5 linked regions of the Homo sapiens genome follow. The protein of the gene in region 5 interacts with the protein of the main gene of each other region in a biochemical or structural test. Each region holds a gene or a part of one and is shown on either strand. Other genes may lie near its edges.

Region 1 (3,523 bases), on a different chromosome or scaffold from region 5:
ATGGGCAGTAGCCTCAGGTTGCCCATGGTGATGTCTGGTTTTGGGAGGGAGAGGTCAAGTGGCCCACAGCAGCATGAGATGAAGGCAGCGCAAGGCCTTCCCTCACCACTGACGGGAGGCAGAACCCAGGCCATCTCCACACACAGGGCGGGCCCTTTGATCCAGAGATTCCACTTCCAGAATTTTCCCAAAGGAAATAATTGGACAAGGCCACCCAGATTCTTTGCAGGGTTATTTATAATGGCAGACAATTTGGAGACAACCTAAGTGTCCAGCATCAGGGAACTGAATAGATAGATTAGAAAACCAGGCTGTTGTTAAAAAGGGCAATCAGGGCCGGGTGCAGTGGCTGACGCCTGTAATCCCAGCACTTTGGGAGGCTGAGGTGGGTGGATCACGTGAGGTCAGAGTTCAAGACCAGCCTGGCCAACATAGTGAAACCCCGTCTTTACTAAAAATACAGAAAATTAGCCAGTCATTGTGGCAGGTGCCTGTAATTCCAGCTACTCGGGAGGCTAAGGCAGGAGAATCACTTGAACCCAGAAGGTGGAGGTTGCAGTGAGCTGAGATTGTGCCATTGCTCTCCAGCCTGGGAGATGAGAGTGAAACTCTGTCTGAAAAAAAAAAAAAAAAAAAAAAAAGGGCAATCAGATCTTCCTGTATTGACGTGAAAAGATGTCCACAATATATTAAGTGGAAAAAGCAGCTTGCAGAATAATATACACAGTATGGTCCTTTTTTTTTTTTTTTTTTTCAATTTTAAAAATATGTTTGGGCTGGGCGTGGTGGCTCATGCCTGTAACCCTAGCACTTTGGGAGGCCAAGGCAGGTGGATCATGAGGTTGGAAGATTGAGACCATCCTGGCTAACACGGTGAAACCGCACCTCTACTAAAAATACAAAATTAGCTGGGTGTGGTGGCACAAGCCTATAATCCTAACTACTTGGGAGGCTGAGGCAGGAGAATAGCTTGAATCCGGGAGTGGGAGGTTGCGGTGAGCCGAGATCACGCCACTGCACTCCAGCCTGGGCAACAAGAGCAAAACTCTATCTCAAAAAAATAAAACTAAAGGTTTGCACTACATATCTGAAAGGATGTGTACCAGCTGTTAACAATGGTTAGCCCCAAGGGTGGGGTGGGATGGGGATAAGAAAGGGGCATTCACTTTCACTGGGTTGTTTACAAATTCTTTAAGTGTTTTTATCCTGCAAAAAACGAGGAAAACCCAGCCGGGCACGGCGGCTTACGCCTGTAATCCCAGATTTTGGGAGGCCAAAGTGAGAAGATCATGTGAATCCAGGAGTTTGAGACCAAACTGGGCAACATAGTAAGACCCCATTTCTGCAAAAAATGAAAAATTAGCTGGGGCAATAGTGTGTGCCTATAGTCCCAGCTACTCAGTAGTCTTAGGTGGGAGGATTACAGCTTGAGCTGGGGAGGTCCAGGCTGCAGTGACTATGATTACACTACTACACTTAGCCTGGGTGAGTCTTTTTTTTTTTTTTTTCCTGAGATGGAGTTTTGCTCTTATTGCCCAGGCTGGAGTGCAATGGCACGATCTCGGCTCCCTGCAGCCTCCGCCTCCTGAGTTCAAGTGATTCTCCTGCCTCAGCCTCCTGAGTAGCTGGGATTACAGGCACCCGCCACCACGCCTAGCTAATCTTTTGTATTTTTAGTAGAGATGGTGTTTCATCATGTTGGCCAGGCTGGTCTCGAACTCCTGACCTTCAAGTGATCCACCCACCTCGGCCTCCCAAAGTGCTGGGATTACAGGCACGAGCCACCGTGCCCGGCATGACAGTCTTAAAAAAAAAAAAAAGAGGAAAACCCTAGTAAGTGTATTTCTAGTTAAGACTGCTTCTGTCCGCACCCACCTAACTCTCTTCCCCTTGCATACACACAAATCCATTTTAGTACTCTGAGGGAACTCAGACCACAGAGGCATGCAATAGTCCTCACCTCGGCCCCCCAGCCAGATGCCTGGTGGGGCTAAACCTCCCCTCAGAGCCTTCATTCCCACTCAGACTGGGCCAAAGAGCCTTGATCCTGGGGTCTTTGGCTGTGGGATCTTCTGAGCCCCGCCCTGGAGGAGCTGGCTTCTTGAATCCTCTGGGGGAGTAAACAATACTTATTTTCTTATGTAAGAGGGATGGGCTGGTACCTTATGCAGGGAGACTGGCCAAGTCCTGTTTCTGGAAAATTACTCAACTATCAGCAAGCTGGAAAAGTCCATCTCTAGGACTTCAGCAGCTTCATGTCTAGTTGGGCCCGAGGGAGTCAAAGAATGAGGATTTGCTTCTGTGCAGCTTGGTAGATCATTAAGACTTAGGCTGCCCAGGCTCTCTGGCCACATTCAGAAGGACTTTGCTTGACCCCACAGTTCTGTGTCCTAAAGTGCACCTGGAGCTGGAGATATGCTTGGAACCACAGAAGTATGTAGAACATGGCCGGGCACAGTGGCTCACGCCTGTAATCCCAGCAGTGGGAGGCTGAGGTGGGTAGATCATTTGAGGTCAGGAGTTCAAGACCAGCCTGGCCAACATGGAGAAACCCTGTCTCTACTAAAAATACAAAAATTGGCTAGGCAGGGTAGTGGTTGCCTGTAATCCCAGCTACTCAGGAGGCTGAGGCAGGAGAACTGCTTGAACCCAGAGGCAGAGGTTGCAGTGAGCTGAGATCGCACACTGCACTCCAGCCTGGACGACAGAGCGAGACTTTGTCTCAAAAAAGAAAGTACCTAGAACACTCTGAGCTGGATCATTTACCTTTCCTAAAGATTAGCATCACGAAGCTCAGAGAGGTGAAGTGGTGAATGCAAAGTCACCCAGGAAATCAGCCACTTCTGGAGTGCACCCCATTTGACTTGGCCCCCCGCCTTCTCCCTCCCGACCTGTCAGCCGTGGGTGAGCTGTGGGTGAATCTGAGGAGCCCGGGGCCTCCTTTCCAATCTGAGTGAGAACTCTTATTCTCACTGTTACTAAGAATCACAGCAGGTGTGTTTATTTGTAAATCATATCACATCAGTGCCATCCGAGAATCCTTACAGGCAGGGCAGGGTCACAGATGAGCTGAATCACTCAGAAGCTTAGTGGCAAAGCCCCAGCTTGCCTACATCTCCTGGGCTCCGACCCGGTGTGCTTTGCATTACGACTCTGTTGCTGGAACTGGCTGGCCACAGCGCCTGGGTCACAGGTGGAAAGCCCCAGCTCTTTAGGATTGAGCATAGCAGGTCTGGCCTGCACCTGCAGGGGGAGGAGAAACCTTGGCCTGTGCACACCCAACACTTTCAAGGATCCCAGACAGAGCTTTTGTGCTTCCTTTCTTCCTCTTTTCTGCAGCCCGTGCACCACCAGCGGGTCCAGCTACAAACCCAGTTGCCAATACAGCCTAAGGACGAGCCTGCCCACAACTATTCCAGTTCCATTTGGCACAGCCAGGGGCAGGGACAGAAGGGCCCTGCAGGACTCCGCCTCCCCACCTCTGCACAGATCCTCTCTCCTTTCCCCTAATACTCCCATCATC
Region 2 (3,523 bases), on a different chromosome or scaffold from region 5:
GGACAATTTATCCCTTGTAACAGAGCATCTCAACACAGGTGCAAATAGGTTGGTAATCTTGGTGTGGGCAAATGTGAAATTTATTCTGATTGCTTTTATTTTCTCATTTATTCCCACCTCCCATCCAGTGCAGGAATTCCCTGTGCACTGTTGCTGGTAGGTGGTCATCTACATGCTCATGTCATCCTTGAATATCTCTGATTATTGGAAATTGCTTCAGTGCACCAAACTGAAACTACCTTCTGTAGTTTCTATCCTTTGATCCCAGCTTTGCCTCTGACTCCACATACAACATACTCTTCCCTCCCTTAGAACGGCCTTGCAGATATTTGAAGATGATAATTGCTGGGATATGTTGGAAATAAGACAGAATGATCCTAGACATAGGCATATTTTTTTATTTTTTTATTTTTATTTTATTTTTTTTTTTGAGATGGAGTCTCACTCTGTCACCTAGGCTGGAGTGCAATGGTGTGATCTCAGCTCACCGCAACCTCCACCTCCCAGGTTCAAGCGATTCTCCTGCCTCAGCCTCCTGAGTAGCTGGGATTACAGGCACCTGCCACCATGCCCAGCTAAGTTTTGTATTTTTAGTAGAGACCACATTTCGCCATATTGGTCAGGCTGTTCTCGATGGTCTCGAACTCCTGACCTCAGGTGATCCACCCACCTCAGCCTCCCAAAGTGCTGGGATTACAGGAGTGAGCCACCACGCCCGGCCCTAGACATATCTTTTTATGTTTCCGGACCCTATCTGTGAAGTGAAGATGATAAGTCTTGCCCTATTACCCAGAGTTAATTGTGGCCATTAAATTAGACAGTGCTTATGTAAGTACTCTTTGAATTAAGTGCTGAGTGCTTGTAAAGATTTAGTCTTACTGTTTTTCTTTACCTTTCCCAGGAGACGCTTCATTTAGGGGACTAGGGTGGCAACAGTTTTCACTTACATTTAATATTCCTTTCCTGCTAGAAGAGATCAGTTCTTGGATGACTGAGGTGAAGGCACCAGGAATAATTTCTGCCAGCAGCTGGGCAGATGTTTAACTCAACAGGCTAAATGGATAATAAACCCTTCAGATGTGTAAGCAAGAATAATAATAAAGCCAGGCACAGTGACTCACGCCTGTAATCCCAGCACTTTGGGAGGTTGAGGCAGGAGGATCACTTGAGTCTAGGAGTTTGAGACCAGCCAGGCCAACATGGTAAAACCCCGTCTCTACTGAAAATACGAAAAGCAGTCGGGTGTAGTGGCTGGTGCCTGTAATCCCAGCTACTTGGGAGGCTGAGTCAGGAGAATTGCTTGAACCTGGGAGGTGGAGGTTGCAGTGAGCCAAGATCGTGCCACTGCACTCCAGCCTGGGCGACAGAGCAAGACTCCATCTCAAAAAAAAAAAAAAAAAAAAAGAAGAAGAAGAATAAACCCTTAGGTCTGTAACATATTTCATAAGTTTACAAAGTACTTTCAAATACACTATCTTATTTTATTTTTACAGACATGTGAGATGGGCATTATCATCATCCCTACTTTACAGACAGGGAAGTTGTACATAGTCCCATGGCCTTTAAATGTTCAACCTGATCCTTAGGTCATACTCTTTCCAGTATATATACACAGCTGCTACTTTGCATCCTAGAGCATAAAGCAGCTGACCATATTTCTAGAACTTGTATATGGGGAACAAGAGAGAGCCTCATTTGGAGCTCAAGGTGATTCACCATTTTTATTGCCAGGCCTTGTACCTCATTGCCACCAATGGGACCCCAGAACTTCAGAACCCAGAGAAGCTGTCAGCTATCTTCCGGGACTTTCTGAACCGCTGTCTCGAGATGGATGTGGAGAAGAGAGGTTCAGCTAAAGAGCTGCTACAGGTAACTGTCCTTATGCAGGGAAGCACCTAATTCAGGGAATCACTAAACCAGGCCTTTTTTACTTCATGTTTGTAAGGTACTGGATATTATAGAACTAGGCTTCTCTTCTACCACTTCCTACACTCACTCTGTTCCTACTGCCCTTTTATCCCTGGGCCTTTGCTCATTTATTTTCTTAGCCTTTCTCAGCCTGTTAAAACTCTACACGTTCTCCTAGGCTCAGTTTACAATCTATTTTCTGAGCACCTATTGAGCTTTGCTTGTAGCTTTTTTGCTTGCTTCCTTCCTTCCTTTCCTTTCTTCTTCCTTTCCCTTTCCTTCCCTTCCTTTCCCTTCCCTTCCCTTCCCTTCCCTTCCCTTCCTTTCCCTTCCCTTCCCTTTCCCCCCCCTCTTCCCTCTCCCCCTTCCTCTCACGCCCCACAGGGTCTCACTCTGTCACCCAGGCAGGAGTGTGCAATGGCGTGATTTTGTCTCACTGCAGTCTTCCTCTCCTGGGTTCACTCAAGTGATCTTCCCACCTCAGCCTCCCAGGTAGCTCAGACTACAGGTGCACGCCACCATACCTGGCTAGTTTTTTAAAAACTTTTTTGTAGAGACGGGGTTTTGCTATGTTGGCCGTGCATGGTCTCAAATTCCTGGGTTCAAGCGATCTGCGCACTTCGCTTTCCCAAAGTGCTGGGACTACAGGCATGGGCCACCATGACCAGCCTGCTTGTATCTTTCATTAGCACTTCCTTTGTTCTGTTTGAATTAGTCTGGCAGAGTTTGTTTGAGTCTTGTTGAGAAACGGGTCTCTGACACCCAAATCTTACACAACTTATATTTTGCTGGGATTAGCTCAAAGGATACATTTTTAGCAAAGGAACATAAGTTTATTTTATTTTATTTATGTTTTATTTTTCTTTCTTTTTTTTTAATTCTTTTTTTTTTACATTTTATTATTATTATACTTTTAAGTTTTAGGGTACATGTGCACAACGTGCAGGTTTGTTACATATGTATACATGTACCATGTTGGTGTGCTGTACCCATTAACTCGTCATTTAGCATTAGGTATATCTCTTAATGCTATCCCTCCACCCTCCCCTGACCCCACAACAGTCCCGGGTGTGTGATGTTCCCCTTCCTGTGTCCATGTGTTCTCATTGTTCATTTCCTACCTATGAGTGAGAACATGCAGTGTTTGGTTTTTTGTCCTTGCAATAGTTTGCTGAGAATGATGGTTTCCAGTTTCATCCATGTCCCTACAAAGGACATGAACTCATCATTTTTTATGGCTGCATAGTATTCCATGGTGTATATGTGCCACATTTTCTTAATCCAGTCTATCGTTGTTGGACATTTAGGTTGGTTCCAAGTCTTTGCTGTTGTGAATAGTGCCACTATAAACATACGTGTGCATGTGTCTTTACAGCAGCATGATTTATAATCCTTTGGGTATATACCCAGTAATGGGATGGCTGGGTCAAATGGTATTTCTAGTTCTAGATCCCTGAGGAATTGCCACACTGACTTCCACAATGGTTGAACTAGTTTACACTCCCACCAACAGTGTAAAAGTGTTCGTATTTCTCCACATCCTCTCCAGCACGTGTTGTTTCCTGACTTTTTAATGATCGCCATTCTAACTGGTGTGAGATGGTATCTCATTGTG
Region 3 (3,523 bases), on a different chromosome or scaffold from region 5:
ACCTGTTTATGGAGAAACCAGGAGATGCCATTGCTGTGTGTCCCATGGTGGCGACTGGGCTCATTGCTGCCTTGTGGTGTATTTTAGCTTGTTCCTCTATCTGGTGAATTTTCCTGCGGAAAATTCTGCAGAAAAATCTGCGGAACCATTTTTTGCTGGAACGCTTGACAGCTCTTGCATACACTTGAAAACACGTCACATTCTAGGAAACGTGGTGATTGGTGCTCCTGTGAGCTGCTGGCTGGCATCTGTCAGTGGTGGAGAGCTCTGGGGGGTGAGGGGGCACCTGGTTGAGCCTTGTCTCCTTTGGCCTCCCAGCCTCTAGGCCAGGAGGATGGCACCGAGTGTGCCTGCAGTGGCCTCTTGCTGAATGGACACTTGGGTGGGTGGCTTGTGCATTTTTGTCAGGGGCTGCTCAGCACTCACACCAGTCCTTGGGAAGGCCTGGGTTTGGGGGCACCTCTGGGGAAGGTTCCTGGAGCTTCCTTTGCTCTGTGAGAAACCTAAGGAGCCTCAGAGCTGCAGATGAGGAAACTGAGGCTCACATGGTGCCACCTCTTGCCCGAGAGGGTCAGAGCAGGAGGAGAGCCCAGGTCTGGGGATAGATCTTGTGTCTCCAGAGGTGCCTTGTCTCACCATCTCTGCTGGGCTGGGAAGAGGTTGAGGGAGCAGAGACCCTGGCCCTGAGCTGCAGAATTCTCGAGTGTCAGAGGCACCCCGAGCTCCTCCTTTGGAAGACAGGAGCTGGGGCATGGCCACCACCCCAGCAGGTGTGCCAGGTGGGCAGGACACTCAGCCGGGGGCGTCCCCTTCGTTTCCCCAGAGGATGCGGCTGTGAAGGGGCGGCTGGTGGAATGTCTGGAGACTGTGCTCAACAAGGCCCAGGAGCCCCCCAAATCCAAGAAGGTGCAGCATTCCAACGCCAAGAACGCCATCCTCTTCGAGACCATCAGCCTCATCATCCACTATGACAGGTGCCCGCCTGGGCCTATCAGGGCCTGATGCCTGGGGCCAGGAAAGAGGGGCATGGAGGCCCGGACTCCTGAGTCCTAGGCAGAGGGCAGGGAATCTTGACTTTTAGGTAGGGTAGGAGGAGGATGGGGCTGTGAAGTGTCACCTGTGAGGTTGGTGCTGGGGCCCTTCCTGGGGGCAGAATTGCTAGGTATCTTTCTCTGGGCTCAAAGGCCCAGTTGTCTGGGTCACTGGAGGTGCAGTACTGCGATGCAAGGCCGGCAAGGTTAAGACCTGGATCCTTGGGGGCTGTGAGATGGGTCAGCTGGGGCCCGAGTCCTCCACCTTCTCCTGTCAGTTTCTCTCACCATCCCTCTCTTGTGGCCCCTGCTGGCAGTGAGCCCAACCTCCTGGTTCGGGCCTGCAACCAGCTGGGCCAGTTCCTGCAGCACCGGGAGACCAACCTGCGCTACCTGGCCCTGGAGAGCATGTGCACGCTGGCCAGCTCCGAGTTCTCCCATGAAGCCGTCAAGACGCACATTGACACCGTCATCAATGCCCTCAAGGTGTGAGCCCTTGGAGCCCACCCCGGGCCTGCCACCCCCCTCAGAAAGACCAGAGGCTCAGAGGCCCTTGGGTGGCCAACCCTGTGCCAACAGGGAGTCTAAAACACACCTGGGCTCTGCTCTCCGCCCTCAGACGGAGCGGGACGTCAGCGTGCGGCAGCGGGCGGCTGACCTCCTCTACGCCATGTGTGACCGGAGCAATGCCAAGCAGATCGTGTCGGAGATGCTGCGGTACCTGGAGACGGCAGACTACGCCATCCGCGAGGAGATCGTGAGTGCTGTGGGGTGCGGGCTGGACTCTTGGGTCTGAGGCAGGAGGTGGCTGGGGGCCTGGATTCCTAAGTCTAAGGGAGGAGGGGCTGGGGCCTGGACTCCTGGGTCTCCAGATGGGGGCAGTGGTGAGCCCAGATCCAGGTGAGTGAAAGCCCGACATGGCCTGCGGCACACTCTCTCTCACACGCCCCGGCGGCAGGTCCTGAAGGTGGCCATCCTGGCCGAGAAGTACGCCGTGGACTACAGCTGGTACGTGGACACCATCCTCAACCTCATCCGCATTGCGGGCGACTACGTGAGTGAGGAGGTGTGGTACCGTGTGCTACAGATCGTCACCAACCGTGATGACGTCCAGGGCTATGCCGCCAAGACCGTCTTTGAGGTCAGCATCCCTGACCCTGACCCTATGACCCCACGACAGGACCTAGAGGCAGAGCAAGGATGGCCGGGGCCGTGGCGCCTGCCAGCCCGCAGCCACCCTCCTTCTCCTGCACTGCCGTGACCTCAAAATGGGGCCTCTGCCTCTCTGGGCCAACCCAGGGGACCCAGGGCTATGGTCTCATGGGCCTGATGTGAGGAGTCCCCAGGGCATGGGCATGGGGCACCCAGTGTGCAGTCCTGGCCCCCGGATCTCGGTAGTTTCCCTCTGCCCCAGGAAAGGGGCCCCACACAGTCCTGTTTTTTGTTTGTTTGTTTGTTTGTTTCTGGAGACGGAGTCTCACTCTGTTGCCCAGGCTGGAGTGGGGAGTGAGTGCCGTGGTGCGATCTCGGCTCACTGCAACCTCGGCCTCCCAGCGTCAAGCCATTCTCCTGCCTCAGCCTCCCCAGTAGCTGGTACTACAGGCACGCGCCACCACACCCAGCTAATTTGTTTGTATTTTTAGTAGAGACGGGGTTTCACCATGTTACCCAGGCTGGTTTGAAACTCCTGAGCTCAGGCAATCTGCCCGCCTCGGCCTCCCAAAGTACCAGGATTACAGGCATGAGCCACTGCTTCCGGCCCACAGCCCTGTTTTACTTCCTGTGTGAGCTTGGGCCCGTCACTCAACCTTTCTGTGACTCAGTTTCCCACCTATAACCCCACCTGCAGCAGAGCTTTCAGTGTTCCACCAGTCAGTAGGTGGCTGCACCCACCGATCCCGGAGAGGGCGCTCATTGTTGTCCTCTCCACGCCCTTCCCCACCCCACTCAGGCGCTCCAGGCCCCTGCCTGTCACGAGAACATGGTGAAGGTTGGCGGCTACATCCTTGGGGAGTTTGGGAACCTGATTGCTGGGGACCCCCGCTCCAGGTGAGGGAGCCTCAGCCTGCAGGGGAGAACACACATGCTTCTGAGGGGTCCAGGGCTTGGGGGATCCCCAGGGGTCTCAGGGCAGGCAGTGATGGGCTCCCATCCTCTCGGCCTCCACCCCAATCCACCTAGCAGGGTAAGAAAGGAGCTTAGTCCCAGGATCGTGGACAGAGTGTGACTGCGGCCCCTGTCTGGTGCCTGGGGAGGGCCACTCCCCTCCAGCAGCTTGGGGTCCTGGGACGGGTCCATCCTAGGGAGGGGCACCTCTCGAGGGGGTTTCTGGGAGAGGGCAGTGGAACCTGGCCCCGCTGACACCCACTCCTGCACACAGCCCCCCAGTGCAGTTCTCCCTGCTCCACTCCAAGTTCCATCTGTGCAGCGTGGCCACGCGGGCGCTGCTGCTGTCCACCTACATCAAGTTCATCAACCTCTTCCCCGAGACC
Region 4 (3,523 bases), on a different chromosome or scaffold from region 5:
ATGCACTTGGTTTCAAGCTACCCAGAAAGCTGAGGCAGGAGGATCACTTGAGCCCAGGAGGTCAATGTTGCAGTGAGCTATGATCGCAACACTGCACTCTCCAACCTTGACAACAGAGCAAGACTCCTACTTTCTGAAAATATTAGAAGTCAAGATCTGAGCTTTAGTGTATTTGCTTCTAAGATCTTTCAGTGGTCAGGGCTTAGTTACATTTATGTACATACATATGCTCATTTATGTACATACATGTGCATATACGCATGGAAAAATAAACACACAAGAACAGCTAGTAAAACACTGAAAACTGTAAAAGTGGACTAGTCCTACCAGATGTTGAACTGTGTATTACAAAGTCTATATAATTAAAACAGTATATTACTGGTACATGAATCAAAGTCCAAAACTAGATCCAATATCAGTAAGATTATCAATAAACATAGTTTAAAAGATAGGAAATACCCTCTAAAATGCTATAAAAAGTCCTTTACTTTTTACCTTGAAATTAATCTATCATATCTTCTTTAGGTTTGCAATGAGAATTCCCTCTTCAAAAGTCTTTCTCGCTACCTGGTACGTCGAAAGGATCCAGAATTGTGGGGCAGCGTGCTGCTGGAAAGCAATCCTTACAGGAGACCCCTAATTGACCAGGTAACATTGGCAAATGTGTTTATGGCTGTCAGTAAAAATTATACATTTTTAACTATGAATACAATCCTTTCCCTCATCATGTACTCAAATGGATCATATATAACTATGAGAGAAAGCAATACAAAGTAGAAGAAAATTAAAATTTATATATATTCAATTTACATTCATTTGTATATAATGAATGTAAATTGATTATATACATTATATACAAATGAATGTACATTTATATAAGTATAAATATGTATATAACATACATTAAGAAAAATAAGCCATGTGCGGTGGCTCACGCCTGTAATTCCAGCACTTTGGGAGGCCGAGGTGGGTGGATCACCTGAAGTCAGGAGTTCGAGACCAGCCTGGCCAACGTAGTAAAACCCCATCTCTACTAAAAATACAAAAATTAGCCAGGTGCATGTAATCCCAGCTACTCGGCAGGAAAATCGCTTGAACCCGGGAGGTGGAGGTTGCAGTAAGCCGAGATCACGCCATTGCACTCCAGCCTGGGTGATAAGAGCAAGACTGTCTCAAAAAAACAAAAAGAAAAAAGAAAAAGAAAATACATCCCAAAAGACCTGACTTAATTATATAAAACTCTCTTGGTTCATCATAGTTTAAAAGGAAAATAACAAACTAAACATTAAAGATTGCTATTATTAACACTTAAGTGGCTAAATTGATTGGAAACTTCAAGATAATAAGTCAGAAAAATATAAGGATAAGAGAAAATACAAAAGACCAAGTGCATCAGTGTTATATCTTACTAATAAGAAGTATAGAACTGCAAATGAGATGGGGTTTTATACCTAAATAAAATAGACAACATATTTTAAAAGTTCTAAAAATAGAAGAGTTGTTATAATGAGTCTTAAATTCTCCTGAGATAAGTATAAATAAAATATTTTGGAAACGAATAGGTTGAAGGCTATTAATATTTCATTCCTTTCCTAGGAAGCACTTCTAAGCAACATTCCCAAGTAGTTACAAAGCTTCCTAGGGGAAGGTTGTGGGGGTGGGGGCGATGGTTGGAAATCATTGCAGCATCTAGAAAACCAAGCAAATAGCCAAAACCAGACGAATTACCGATATTTTAATTCCACATCTGTGTAGCTGAATTTTGAATTATGTGTAGCCATTAAAGTGATAATGATGATTGCTAGCCTGGATAATGTTTTAATCAGGGAAAAGATAGAAATTATATAATTAGAGTAATTTTTCAACACAATTATACATATTGTATAGATTTGTGTAGAAAGACCTCTCTATGTAAATTTAAAGGTCTTTTTCCTACTTCATTCTTTTCTGCCTATTTCAAGTTTTCTAATGAGAGGCCAACTTACGCTTTTTTAAAACCAACTTGATTCTCAGTACTTATGTCCCATATATCCTCTGTAGGTTGTACAAACAGCTTTGTCTGAGACTCAGGACCCTGAAGAAGTGTCAGTAACTGTAAAGGCTTTCATGACTGCAGACCTTCCTAATGAACTCATTGAACTGCTGGAGAAAATTGTCCTTGATAACTCTGTATTCAGTGAACACAGGTATGCTTTCAGAGGGATCCATTGGCTATTTATAGTCAGTCTTTAATAAATTATGGCCCATCAGTTTTGGGAAGGAACAAAAAGATCAGAGAAAGTTGCCTGAATTCTCACTCTTCTAATATCCTCCCCCCTACCCTACCTCTTGAGACAAAAACCTCTCCGTTAGTCACAGTGGTTATTTTTTATGTCGGATAAACTTAAAATATTGCATTTAAAATATTCTTTTTTTTCTTAAAGGAATCTGCAAAACCTCCTTATCCTCACTGCAATTAAGGCTGACCGTACACGTGTTATGGAGTATATTAACCGCCTGGATAATTATGATGCCCCAGATATTGCCAATATCGCCATCAGCAATGAGCTGTTTGAAGAAGCATTTGCCATTTTCCGGAAATTTGATGTCAATACTTCAGCAGTTCAGGTAAATCTTCAGATTACCTAAGTTGAATTACTAAACACTGTGCTATGAGGGTGGGCCTAATTGGTTGCTACGGCAATAGAGCAGCAATAAAATACTAACAGCTTAAATGTAATTGCTTTGGGTAGGATTGATTTTACTCTAACCCTAATTTCAAACTTGGATACTTAGGTCTTAATTGAGCATATTGGAAACTTGGATCGGGCATATGAGTTTGCTGAACGTTGCAATGAACCTGCGGTCTGGAGTCAACTTGCAAAAGCCCAGTTGCAGAAAGGAATGGTGAAAGAAGCCATTGATTCTTATATCAAAGCAGATGATCCTTCCTCCTACATGGAAGTTGTTCAGGCTGCCAATACTAGTGGTATGACTTCTTACCTTATGTATTGAAACCTCATAAAATGATTAAGCTAAGCATTAAGATATCTGTCTATTCTGAATTTTAGAAGAGTTGGATACTGCATGGTTTCTTTTAGTGCTCCATCTTAGTCCAGATAAAAAGAGGCTGTATTTTGTGAATTTGTAAGTTCACAAAACTTACAAGTGGGGAAGATGAATCTTCTGTTTTTGAAGTCTCATAAAATCCTGATAGTGCTCTAATCTTAAAACTTTAAGGAAAAAGAATTCATCTATTCATTTGGTCCGTGATAATACAGAAGTGAAATATTGCACGGTTTACATTTGTCATTATCCATGTTTCCTTGAAAAGGAAATGAATGCAATTTTCATTTACTTGGGTGAAAGATAAACTAGGATGTTAGTGTTTGGATATATTTTTTCTTTTTCTATACTTAGGAAACTGGGAAGAACTGGTGAAGTACTTGCAGATGGCCCGTAAGAAGGCTCGAGAGTCCTATGTGGAGACAGAACTGATATTCGCACTGGCTAAAACAAACCGCCTTGCAGAGTTAGAAGAATT
Region 5 (3,500 bases):
AAATGTTAAAACTGGCTGGGCGTGGTGGCTCACGCCTGTAATCCTAGCACTTTGGGAGGCTGAGGTGGGAGGATCACTTGAGGTCAGGAATTCAAGACCAGCCTGGCCGACATGGCAAAACCCTGGCTCGAATAAAAATACACAAATTAGCCCAGCATGGTGTGTGCCTGTAGTCCCACCTCACCTACTCAGGAGGCTGAGGCATGAGAATCTCTTTTTTTTTTTTTTGAGATGGAGTCTTGCTGTGTCACCCAGGCCGGAGTGCAGTGGCACGATCTCAGCTCACCGCAAGCTCCGCCTCCCGGGTTCACGCCATTCTCCTGCCTCAGCCTCCCATAGCTGGGATTACAGGCGCCCGCCACCATGCCTGGCTAATTTTTTGTATTTTTAGTAGAGACGGGGTTTCACCGTGTTAGCCAGGATGGTCTCAATCTCCCGACCCTACGATCCGCCCGCCTTGGCCTCCCGAAGTGCTGGGATTACAGGCGTGAGCCACCGCGCCCGGCCGAGAATCTCTTGAACCTGGGAGGTGGAGGTTGCAATGAGCCAAGATCATGCCATTGCACTCCAGCCTGGGTTGAGACTGTCAAAACAAAAACAAACAAAAAAGGTGTTAAAACTTTGTTTTTGATGTCTGATATATAATAATATGGTCGTCAAGATTTCATGTTTCTTGAGCATTACTTTGTGAAAATGAGTTTTTTTAATATATGTTAGATTTAAACTGAATAATTTTCTATCATTTTATTTTACTCTTACACATAGTGAAAAACAAAATAAAATATCGAGCTGAAGCCTGCATTAAAATGCAAAAAACTATTCGAATGTGGCTTTGCAAGAGGAGACACAAACCTCGGTAAGATGAATAGTTCCTAAAAAGAACTCTACAAAACCTAGTTACTGTAATACAAAATGACAATAAAGTCATAATAAAAAGCAGTTTGGATACTCAGGTTTTCTCATGTTCTTTGTAAAATGATGTATTAGTCTTTTATTTGTAATATTTATTTGAAGTTAGTTAATTCATTTATTACCTTATTACTTGCCTCATTCTATAAAAGGATTTGAAGTGGCATACAAAAATGTGTAAAGACTATAAAACAAGAAGTAAGTAGTTGAGAGAAGCTCTTTTATTCTGATTATTTTAGTTATTTGAGTTTCTTGATAATGTCAAGGTGACATTTTTTAAAAAACATCTCACTAATATGTTTACATAATTTTCAAGATTATCTGTAGGAATTACATTGTCCCATTATAAATTAGTGTATTTCTTATTTGAATCTTTCATTTTTAATTTACACTTTTAAAAATTGGAAGTCTGAATATCTCTATTGATCCATCACACCTTTTCAAAGAGACTAGATTAATTTCCTCTGTGATTTGAATTCTCAAAGTTGTAGAAGGCTTTAATCCCATTGACAGGCATCAGTGTCATTCACACTCATATTTGATTTTTTTTAGCCTTCAACAAGAGATCTGAAAAAGAGAATAGTAGATAATATTGAAAACAGAAGTGAAATACCCTGTTTAGCATTTTATAAATGAAAAATCTGCCAAAAGTACTAAAGGATGAAATTAAGCTCTAATGAAGTATTATTTTTACAGCATTGATGGTCTGGTTAAGGTGGGCACACTGAAAAAACGACTTGATAAATTTAATGAGGTAGTCAGTGTGTTGAAAGATGGAAAACCCGAGATGAATAAACAGATCAAGAATCTGGAAATTTCTATTGATACTTTGATGGCCAAAATTAAGGTATGTAATTTCAACCCGAATGACTTTGACTTTTTATGTAATTTAATATATTTTGTTATTGGTATTGAAATTGTATAGAAAACGTCCTTAGTTTTTCAAAATTACAAAATGTGTTGAGACTCAATGATGGCAAGTACATGCTCATCATTATTACCTCTACTCTTTATGTTTGAAAAATTTCATAGCAAAAAGTTAAAGAAGACAATTTTTATGCCATTTCTTCTGTTGCTAAGAAAGATATCCCTCGCAACTTAATACCTAGGTGATGGGATGATCTGTGCATCAAACCCACCATGGCACACGTTTACCTGTGTAACAAACCTGCACATCCTGCACGTGCATCCCTGAAATTAAAATAAAAGTTGGAGGCCATACATGGTGGCTCATGCCTGTAATCCCAGCACTTTGGGATGCTGAGGCGGACGGATCATGAGGTCAGGAGATCGAGACCATCATGGCCAACATGGTGAAACCCTGTCTCTACTAAAAATACAAAACTAGCTGGGTGTGGTGGCGTGCACCTGTAATTCCAGCTGCTTGGGAGGCTGAGGCAGGAGAATCGCTTGAACCTGGGAGGCGGAGATTGCAGTGAGCCAAGATTGTGCCACTGCACTCCAGCCTGGTGACAGAGTGAGACTCCATCTCAAAAAAAAAAAAAAATGAAAAAAGAAAACTAAAGTTGGAGCAAAAAGAAAATGGCCGGGCACGGTGGGTCACGCCTGTAATCCCAGCACTTTGGGAGGCCGAGGCAGGCGGATCACAAGGTCAGGAGATTGAGACCATCCTGGCTAACATGGTGAAACCTTGTCTCTACTAAAAATACAAAAAAAAAAAATTAGCCAGGCGTGATGGGGGGCACCTGTAGCCCCAGCTACTTGGGAGGCTGAGGCAGGAGAATGGAGTGAACCGGGGGGGCGGAGCTTGCAGTGAGCCGAGATCGCGCCACTGCACTCCAGCCTGGGTGACAGAGCAAGACTCCGTCTCAAAAAAAATAAATAAATAAAAATAAAAGTGGTGGGGCATGGTGGCTCCTGCCTGTAATCCCAGCACTTTGGGAGGCCGAGGTGGGCGGATTATTTGAGGTCAGGAGGTTGAGACCAGCCCAGCCAACATAGTGAATCGCCGTCTCTACTGAAAATACCAAAGTTAGCCAGGTGTGATCGCACGCGCCTGTAGTTCCAGCTACTTGAGGCAGGAGAATTGCTTGAACCCAGGAGGCAGAGGTTGCAGTGAGCCAAGATTGTGCCACTGCACTCCTGCCTCAGCGACAGAGTGAGACTACGTCTAAAAATAAATAAATAAATGATAAAAGTAATATAATACTATAAAAAATTTGGAGGCCAGATGTGATGGCTCACACCTGTAATCCCAGCACTTTGGGAGGCCCAGGCGCAGGGATCACCTGAGCTCAGGAGTTAGAGACCAACCTGATCAACATGGCCAAAACCTGTCTCCACCAAAAATACAAAAAATTATTTGGGCATGGTGGTATGAGCCTGAGGTCCCAAGGAAGCTGAGGTTAGAGGATTGCTTGAGCCTAGGAGATGGAGGTTGCAGTGAACAGAGATTGCACCACTGCACTCCAGCCTGGGTGACAGTGAGACCCCTGGCTAAAAAAAAAAAAAAATTGGAGAAACCACCAAAAACCTCTTAATACCTCCACATTAACAAATTCAGTTAGTTACTGTTATTTTTACAGTATAATTTTACTTGTTTTTACTTTACCTTACATTCTCTTTTATGC

What was found.
Region 1: the proteins of MYO6 (region 5) and CLTB form a complex in vitro, tested with the Homo sapiens proteins (one study listed by BioGRID).
Region 2: of the proteins of MYO6 (region 5) and PAK1, one has a biochemical effect on the other in vitro, tested with the Homo sapiens proteins (one study listed by BioGRID).
Region 3: the proteins of MYO6 (region 5) and AP2A1 form a complex in vitro, tested with the Homo sapiens proteins (one study listed by BioGRID).
Region 4: the proteins of MYO6 (region 5) and CLTC form a complex in vitro, tested with the Homo sapiens proteins (one study listed by BioGRID).

Annotation. Positions count from the first base shown.
Region 1 is NC_000005.10:176,406,525-176,410,047, reverse strand, and holds part of CLTB (clathrin light chain B), read left to right. Parts: intron 1-3,339; coding exon of another isoform or gene 3,340-3,510; exon of another isoform or gene 3,511-3,523. UniProt on the Homo sapiens protein: Clathrin is the major protein of the polyhedral coat of coated pits and vesicles.
Region 2 is NC_000011.10:77,331,076-77,334,598, reverse strand, and holds part of PAK1 (serine/threonine-protein kinase PAK 1), read left to right. Parts: intron 1-1,731; coding exon 1,732-1,869; intron 1,870-3,523. UniProt on the Homo sapiens protein: Protein kinase involved in intracellular signaling pathways downstream of integrins and receptor-type kinases that plays an important role in cytoskeleton dynamics, in cell adhesion, migration, proliferation, apoptosis, mitosis, and in vesicle-mediated transport processes.
Region 3 is NC_000019.10:49,797,979-49,801,501, forward strand, and holds part of AP2A1 (AP-2 complex subunit alpha-1), read left to right. Parts: intron 1-823; coding exon 824-974; intron 975-1,348; coding exon 1,349-1,517; intron 1,518-1,626; exon of another isoform or gene 1,627-1,650; coding exon 1,651-1,788; exon of another isoform or gene 1,789-1,989; coding exon 1,990-2,172; intron 2,173-2,982; coding exon 2,983-3,080; intron 3,081-3,411; coding exon 3,412-3,523.
Region 4 is NC_000017.11:59,678,872-59,682,394, forward strand, and holds part of CLTC (clathrin heavy chain 1), read left to right. Parts: intron 1-525; coding exon 526-648; intron 649-2,040; coding exon 2,041-2,186; intron 2,187-2,423; coding exon 2,424-2,607; intron 2,608-2,775; coding exon 2,776-2,968; intron 2,969-3,399; coding exon 3,400-3,523. UniProt on the Homo sapiens protein: Clathrin is the major protein of the polyhedral coat of coated pits and vesicles. Two different adapter protein complexes link the clathrin lattice either to the plasma membrane or to the trans-Golgi network.
Region 5 is NC_000006.12:75,885,239-75,888,738, forward strand, and holds part of MYO6 (unconventional myosin-VI), read left to right. Parts: intron 1-765; coding exon 766-856; intron 857-1,605; coding exon 1,606-1,756; intron 1,757-3,500. UniProt on the Homo sapiens protein: Myosins are actin-based motor molecules with ATPase activity. Unconventional myosins serve in intracellular movements. Myosin 6 is a reverse-direction motor protein that moves towards the minus-end of actin filaments.